Homo sapiens: one gene and its partner. The protein of the gene in region 2 purifies or fractionates together with the protein of the main gene of each other region. This does not show direct contact. Each region holds a gene or a part of one and is shown on either strand. Other genes may lie near its edges. The genes, in order: LRPPRC and CPS1.

Evidence for each region.
Region 1: the proteins of CPS1 (region 2) and LRPPRC fractionate together in Homo sapiens (co-fractionation; one large-scale study listed by BioGRID). This does not show direct contact.

What each region holds. Positions count from the first base shown.
Region 1 is NC_000002.12:43,891,318-43,895,143, forward strand, and holds part of LRPPRC (leucine-rich PPR motif-containing protein, mitochondrial precursor), read right to left. Parts: intron 3,313-3,826; coding exon 3,228-3,312; intron 1-3,227. UniProt on the Homo sapiens protein: May play a role in RNA metabolism in both nuclei and mitochondria. In the nucleus binds to HNRPA1-associated poly(A) mRNAs and is part of nmRNP complexes at late stages of mRNA maturation which are possibly associated with nuclear mRNA export.
Region 2 is NC_000002.12:210,605,099-210,608,924, forward strand, and holds part of CPS1 (carbamoyl-phosphate synthase [ammonia], mitochondrial isoform b precursor), read left to right. Parts: intron 1-3; coding exon 4-148; intron 149-1,632; coding exon 1,633-1,843; intron 1,844-3,262; coding exon 3,263-3,461; intron 3,462-3,826. UniProt on the Homo sapiens protein: Involved in the urea cycle of ureotelic animals where the enzyme plays an important role in removing excess ammonia from the cell.

The DNA of each region.
Region 1 (3,826 bases), about 170 Mb from region 2:
CATTACAGGCATACCTTGGCTTTAATGCACTTTACAGATGTTGCGTTATTTACAAATTGAAGGTTTATGGTAACCCTGCCTTGGGCAAGTCTATCAATGCCATTTTTCCAACAATATGTGCTTACTTTGTGTCTCTGTGTCACATTTTGGTAATTCCTGGAATATTTCAACCTTTTTCATTATTGTTATATCTGTTACGGTGATCTGTGACCAGTGATCTTTGATGTTACTATTGTAATTGGGGGATGCTATGAACCATACACATGGAAGATGGCAAACTTGAGAAACGTGTTCTGACTGCGATGCTGACTAGTAATTCTCCTGTCTTCCTCTACTCAGGCCTCCCTATTCTGAGACACAACAATATTGAAATTAGGCCAATTAAAAACCCTATTATAGCCTCTAAGTGTTCAAGTGAAAGAGTCATACATCTCTCATTTAAATCAGAAGCGAGAAATGAAATGATTAAGCTTAGCTTAGTGAGGAAGGCATGTCAAAAGCCGAGATACGCTGAAAGCTAGGCTTCTTGCGTGGAACAGCCAGTTGTGAATGCAAAGGAAAAGTCCTTGAAGGAAATTAAAAAGGTGCTACTTCACTGAACACACAAATGATAAGAAACTGACACAGCCTTACTAGTGACATGGAGAAAGTTTTATTGGTCCGGATAGAAGATCAAACCAGCCACAACATTCCCTTAAAAGCCAAAGCCTAATCCAGTGCAAGGCCCTAATACTAGCAGAGGCTGGTTCATGAGGTTTAAGGAAAGAAGCCATCTCCATGACACGAAAGTCCAAGGTGAAGCAGCAAATGCTGATGCAGAAGCTACGGCAGGTTATCCAGAAAATCTAGCTAAGACCACTGATGAAGGCGGCTACACTAAACAACAGATACTCCATGTAGATAAAACAGTCTTATATTAGAAGATGTCATCAAAGATTTCATAGCTAGAGAGGAAAAGCTAATGCCTAGCTTCAAAGGACAGGCTGACTCTATTTTCAATGGCTAATGCAGCTGGTGACTTTATGTTGATGCCAATGCTCACTTACCATTCCCAAATCCTAGGGCCCTTAAGAATTACGCTAAATTTATTCTGCCTGTGTTCTATAAATGGAACAACAAAGCCTAGAGGACAGCATGGATGTTTATACATGGTTCACTGAGTATTTAAAGCCTGCTGTAGAGACCTACTGCTCAGGAAAAAAAAGATTCCTTTCAAAATATTACTGCTCAGTGATAATGCACCTGGTCACCCAAGAGCTCTGAAGGAGATATACAGGGAGATTAATGTTGTTCTCAGGTGCCCTAATAAAACATCCATTCTGCAGCCCATAGATCAAGGAGTAATCTTGACTTTCAAGTCTTAACACATTTTGGGCTCACTTCGGCAACACATATACTGAAATTGGAATGATACAGAGAAGATTAGCATGGCCCCTGCACAAAGATGACACGCAAATGTGTAAAGCGTTCCATGTTTTAAACATAAAATTAAAAAAAAAAAACATGTTTCATAAGGCTATAGCTGACACAGACAGTGATTCTTCTGATGGATCTGGGCAAAGTAAACTGAAAACCTTCTGGGAAGGGTTCACCATTTCTAGATGCCATTAAGAACATCTGTAATTGATAGGAGGTCAAATTATCAACATTAACAGGAGTTTGGGAGAAGCTGATTTCAACCCTCATGGATGAACCCCTTGAGGGTCTCAAGATTTCTGTGGAGGAAATCACTGCAGATGTGGAAATAGCAAGACAACTAGAAGGAGAAGTGGAGCGTGAAGACGTGACTGAATTGCTACAATCTCATGATCAGACTTAACATGAGGAGAAGCTGTTTCCTATGGATGACCAAAGAAAGTGGTTTCTTGAGAAGGAATCTACTCTTGGTAAAGATGCTGTGAACACTGTTGAGATGACAACAAAGGATTCAGAATATGACATAAATTTAGTTAATAAAGCAGTGGTATGGTTTGAGAAGATTGATTCCAATTTTGAAAAGACATTCAATTGCAGATAAAATGCTAACAAACAACATCGCATACTACAGAGAACTCTTTCGTGAAAGGAAAAGTCAGCTGATGTGGCAAACTTTATTGTTGTCTTAAGACATCTCAACCTTTAGCAATCATCACCCTGATCATTCAGCAGCCATCAACATTGAGCCAAGACCTTCTACCAGCAAGATTATGACTCACTGAAGGCACAGATGATCGTTAACTATTTTTAGCAATATCTTAAAATTAAGGTATGTACTTTTTAAAAACATAATGCTATTGCACACTTAATACACTACACTATGGTGTAAACATAACTTTTATATGCACTGGGAAACCAAAAAATTCATGTAACTTTGTTCATTATATTTGCTTTATTGTGGTGGTCTGGAACCATATCTTCCAGGTATGCCTGTGTTTAGTTACTGGAAATTTGATAAATTTTATGACTATTAGCTCTATTTTGAAATAATACAGAATGTTCTCCCTGTAAGGACGGAAAAAGAGAACTGACTTACTAATTCTGATTCTTGAGTCTGTTGTCCTCCCATAGATAAAATCAATGAAGCAATTCTTTATTTACCCCATGCCTCCAGTGAGCAAATCAGTGGGCCACAGATGGAGAGGTGATCATGATTGAGAAATGCTAACATTTATTTTGATGACTGAGGAAACTTTAGACAATTTCCTTTCATATGTGATTGTCTGGCAATCAGGGAACAAACTGGTTAAAAGACCAGAATTTGAACTGGGACGTAAAAACCTTGGGCTACTTTTTAATCAAGGGTCTGTCATTTCAAAGGAGTAGCAGGCAAGCAGAGAGGGTACTGAAGGAGCAAGAAGGCCAGTTAAGTGAGTCTCAAATGTGTACTTGTTTCAGGTGGCAGGCCCTTGGGGAGACTGAACTGGTTTCTGATATATAAGTCCAAGAGGATTTCCAGGTCTTCCCAGGAGCCTGGGATTCTACTCAATATACCCGGACTGCTCGGAAGATGTTCAGTGATACTTTTTAATGTTAAAGTTATATGCATAATTTCATATTTTTCTTAATAGTTTAAAAACATATTCCAGAACTGAGTTATTTATATCATAATTATCTGATATTTAGGATTACTGCCTTTGAGCTGAAGACTAAGACTTAGTTCACTATACTACAAGTCATTTACATGATATAGTCACTTAAATAATAAAGCCATTTAAATAAATAATATAGTCAAATTAAACTTATATTACCATAGCTTTTCATGAGGGAATTGTATGCTTCTTCCTTTTCATTTAATTCAGGAATCAATTCTAACACAGATTTCACAGTTGATGCCTAGGAAATTACATAAAGGTAATATTATGAAAACCGCAAATTAACAGTGAATTAGAACACTGACAAATCAACACTATATTAAAAATTTTCACAATAATTATAACAGAACTACCTATTAAATTTAATGCACTATTGTCCCTTGTATATTAGCATTTGATATTGACTCAATAATCTACAGCTAAAAGAAACCAGCATTTTTCCACAGGTTAATGCAATTCCACTTACATTTCTATGAATATTTTTCTAGAATATGATAAACACATTGCTTCTTTTGTCAAGTGGTGACCATACCAAGAAGTTATGAGATCCCAAGGGTAGAGAGATAACAACCCTATCTTTAGGTGCCACAACTGGTTGATGAAATTGTAAAGAATTCAGTTAAAACATTCTGAAGTGTTACACACTTGACATACAAAAAAGAGCATTTCCAGAATCTCACTGAAATTTTTACTTATTTCTTCCAGGAATATGCAGACTCGGCTATGGCTTTATTTCCTGTAGCGAGTGAATACAG
Region 2 (3,826 bases):
TAGGCCTTTGCTATGACCAACCAAATTCTGGTGGAGAAGTCAGTGACAGGTTGGAAAGAAATAGAATATGAAGTGGTTCGAGATGCTGATGACAATTGTGTCACTGTCTGTAACATGGAAAATGTTGATGCCATGGGTGTTCACACAGGTAGGCAAAGTATCTTCAAGAACTATAGTAATGCTTTCAGTTCATGTCTTTGATGGCCAAGGCAGTCTTTATAAAGTTGTTGCCTTTAAATTACTATTTCTAGTTGACAGACTAGTGATAACATTTTGGACAAGCATAGTATTTTACAGTATTGAAAATGTTCTCACATTTAATTTGATCTTCACACAAACCCTGTGAAGTAAGGCGGATATTACACTGAGTTAATTGAGGAAGAGCCAAAGGTAAGCAATATGGTAGAAATAAGATCCATAAAACTTAGTGTTGAGAAATAAGAAGGGAGGTTGAGACAGTTTAAAGCAGACTGAGCTGGTAATCACCCAGTAAATGAGAAAATAGGCACAATAATAGAAATAAGTTTTTCAGAAAAGTACACTAGTTAGATAAGAGGGCAAAGATGATAACTTAGGATTTAAAAGTGCTAAATTTGGGGTGTGAGCAGAGCTGTCAAAAAAGGGAGTTGAGAATGTGGAGATGGAATTTAAGAAATAAAATAGAAATAAATAAGTTGATACAAAGACACTGGAAACTGTTGGCATAAAAGGGGAAATTGAAGTTGTAGGCATAGACAAAGTATTCAAGGACATAGGTATAGAAAGAGGAGAGAATAGGGTTGAACTTTGAACTCTGGGAAACATTTAGATTTATAGGGCAGGGGAAAGAGGAAGTATTACTGTTGAAGATAGAAGGGGAGAATAAAGAGTTAAGAGGAAAATCAGGTAGTACTGTACCAACTAAGCCAATGCAAGAACTATTTTATAAAAGAGCTTTGTTTTTGGCAGTATCAAATGCTATGCAAGACCAAGACTGATTATTTAATTTGGCTCTTTTGGATGTCCAAGAGAACAATTTCATTGCAAAGTCAGTTCTGTGAGCTCTATTAAAAGGAATTACATGGTATCAAGTGGTAAGCAGAATTGGCAAACTTTCAAGAAGCTCATTCATGTAAAGAATGAGAGAGAAGCTTTGTATGGTTGTCTGGCAATGTTGGGAGAAGACTTCCGGAGGCAGTGAAGATCTGAGCGTGTTTGAAGGCAGAAGGGATGGAGACTAAGATTGCAGATATAAGGGGCTATGATGAGGGAAGTGAAGATGGAAAGGGATGAGATACAGAAAGCCAGCTGATGAGCCAGTCTGAGTGATAATATTCAATGAAAGGAAGAACTTCAGAAATAATTTGAGATGAAGAGCAGGGAAGTTGAAGTCAATCTAGTAAGTAGACGATTGAAGCCTTGATAGCTACTTACTAGATAGATGAACTTGGGAAAGGTTAGAGAGGTTTCTAAAAGTACTGTATCAGAGTAATATGGGCAAAACAGGAATTGGGGGAATACCTGATATCACATATATATCCCAACAAACCCTCAGACTGTTCTATGTCTTGCATCGTGCAAGTAGATGGTTAAGTCGCTGAAGTTGGTTATTTCAATATGCCACCAAGTAATGAGTGCTTCTTGGATATATAGGTGACTCAGTTGTTGTGGCTCCTGCCCAGACACTCTCCAATGCCGAGTTTCAGATGTTGAGACGTACTTCAATCAATGTTGTTCGCCACTTGGGCATTGTGGGTGAATGCAACATTCAGTTTGCCCTTCATCCTACCTCAATGGAATACTGCATCATTGAAGTGAATGCCAGACTGTCCCGAAGCTCTGCTCTGGCCTCAAAAGCCACTGGGTAAGACCAGAATAATTGACCATGGGTTTGCAGATTCTTTTCAGATAGAAATGAAAAATTGACAGATAGTGGAAGACTGTACTGCATTTACAAACTATGTTCCCTTTTTCTGTATGTTAGCTCCAAATCATTTATAGCACCCTGAGGACATGATTATTAATGAGCTTGTTGCCAGATTGAGGTAAATTATATTGCTAGCTGGCTTTGTTTGCAGGCTAATCTAAACGAATCAAAATCTAGGTGGCTAAAGCAGGCTGTGAAAAATCTGCTTCCTAATTGCACTTTGCAGATGTTGTTAAAAGTGCAGATTAATCCTTAATTTTAGTCTTCAGCTGTTTTCTTCAGGTGTATAGCCCTATAGCAAATAGTTGACAGAAAATATAGCTCACTTGACTCAAGCATGCAATACACATTACTTTTATTTTATCAAAACTCCACAAGACTGAACAGTGCGGAATTTTTTCACAAGTAACTGTTACAACCAAACAAATACATCTGCTGTCTATGTAACAGCCACTAGCAGGCATGATTGGAGGGAAAGGTAATCAAAACCTTTGGTTTCTAATAATATATTTAGCACCTTACACTTAAATTATGGCATTTAAATGAACACAATATTTACTTCTTTATATTTTTTTTACGTAGTTCCACAGCACTGCGTGGAGTGGTGAAAGGCATGTTGCCCTGTACAGGAGTCACAATTCTGCATTCTCACTTGGTTCTTCTGTTGACCGTGTGATTTTGAGCACATCACTCATTGTCTTTATCAGTTTCCTCATTTGTTAGGTGGAAGTTGTACTAAAGAACTCATTTTTAATTCTATAGTTCTATGAATTATTTTCTCAAACAGAATAACCCAAACTGACATTCTGGATGAAGATAGTCAAGTTCTCAAAGTGTTAGTTTTGTAAGGAGCCCAAAGTTCAAAGATAATTTGGAGACAGAGCAAGGACCCAAACTTGAAATGCCTACATTTTCTGACCATTATGTACTCTCTTGTACTAGCTAACTCCACTGTATTCTTAGGTACAGATATGTATATGTACAGATATGTATATATTTTCTCAAAAAATATTTTGCAGATTCTCATCTTAGTGGAGGTTAAATACAAATAAAGGTTAAACTTTATTTATCAATAAAGCTATCGATTTTGGGTTGAAGAGGTGAAGGTTGAGCGTTGTAGCAATGCATGTAGTGCACAGAGAGTAAATTCTCCTGTGACCTGTGCCTCTATACTTTGTATCATGACTCCTATTATTCCGCAAGTGGCTACTAAATATTGATGCAGAACAGAGAATCAAGTGTCTTATACCCTGAAGTAGAATAATACCAGAAATTTTAAGAAAGACCAATTTATGTTTTGGTCTGTTTTCAATAATTGCTCGAAGAAAAAAAAATAAATTTGTCTTCTTTTTATAGCTACCCATTGGCATTCATTGCTGCAAAGATTGCCCTAGGAATCCCACTTCCAGAAATTAAGAACGTCGTATCCGGGAAGACATCAGCCTGTTTTGAACCTAGCCTGGATTACATGGTCACCAAGATTCCCCGCTGGGATCTTGACCGTTTTCATGGAACATCTAGCCGAATTGGTAGCTCTATGAAAAGTGTAGGAGAGGTGAGTCCTTGGTTTATTACGCTTTTCTTCTTGTTCTCAGTTATTTTGTTAAATTTGTGACACCATTGACAGTGTTAAAGTTGCCTGGATACCATCAACACATGGACAGTGTTAAAGGTGCAATTGACAGTGTTAAAGTTGCCTGAATATTAGCATACTAATATGCTAACAGTCTCTATGTGATTGTTTACATATTACATATGTTACATGGCCATTTTGCTGGATTTGAAGGTCTTCCTATTCAAAAGGTGAGGCCATATATCTGGCTATATAGTATAGATACACATATGAAAACACATTCATATACATATAACTGAGTTGTAATATATTTTATAACCAAATCAAGAAAGTAATATAGAATATAA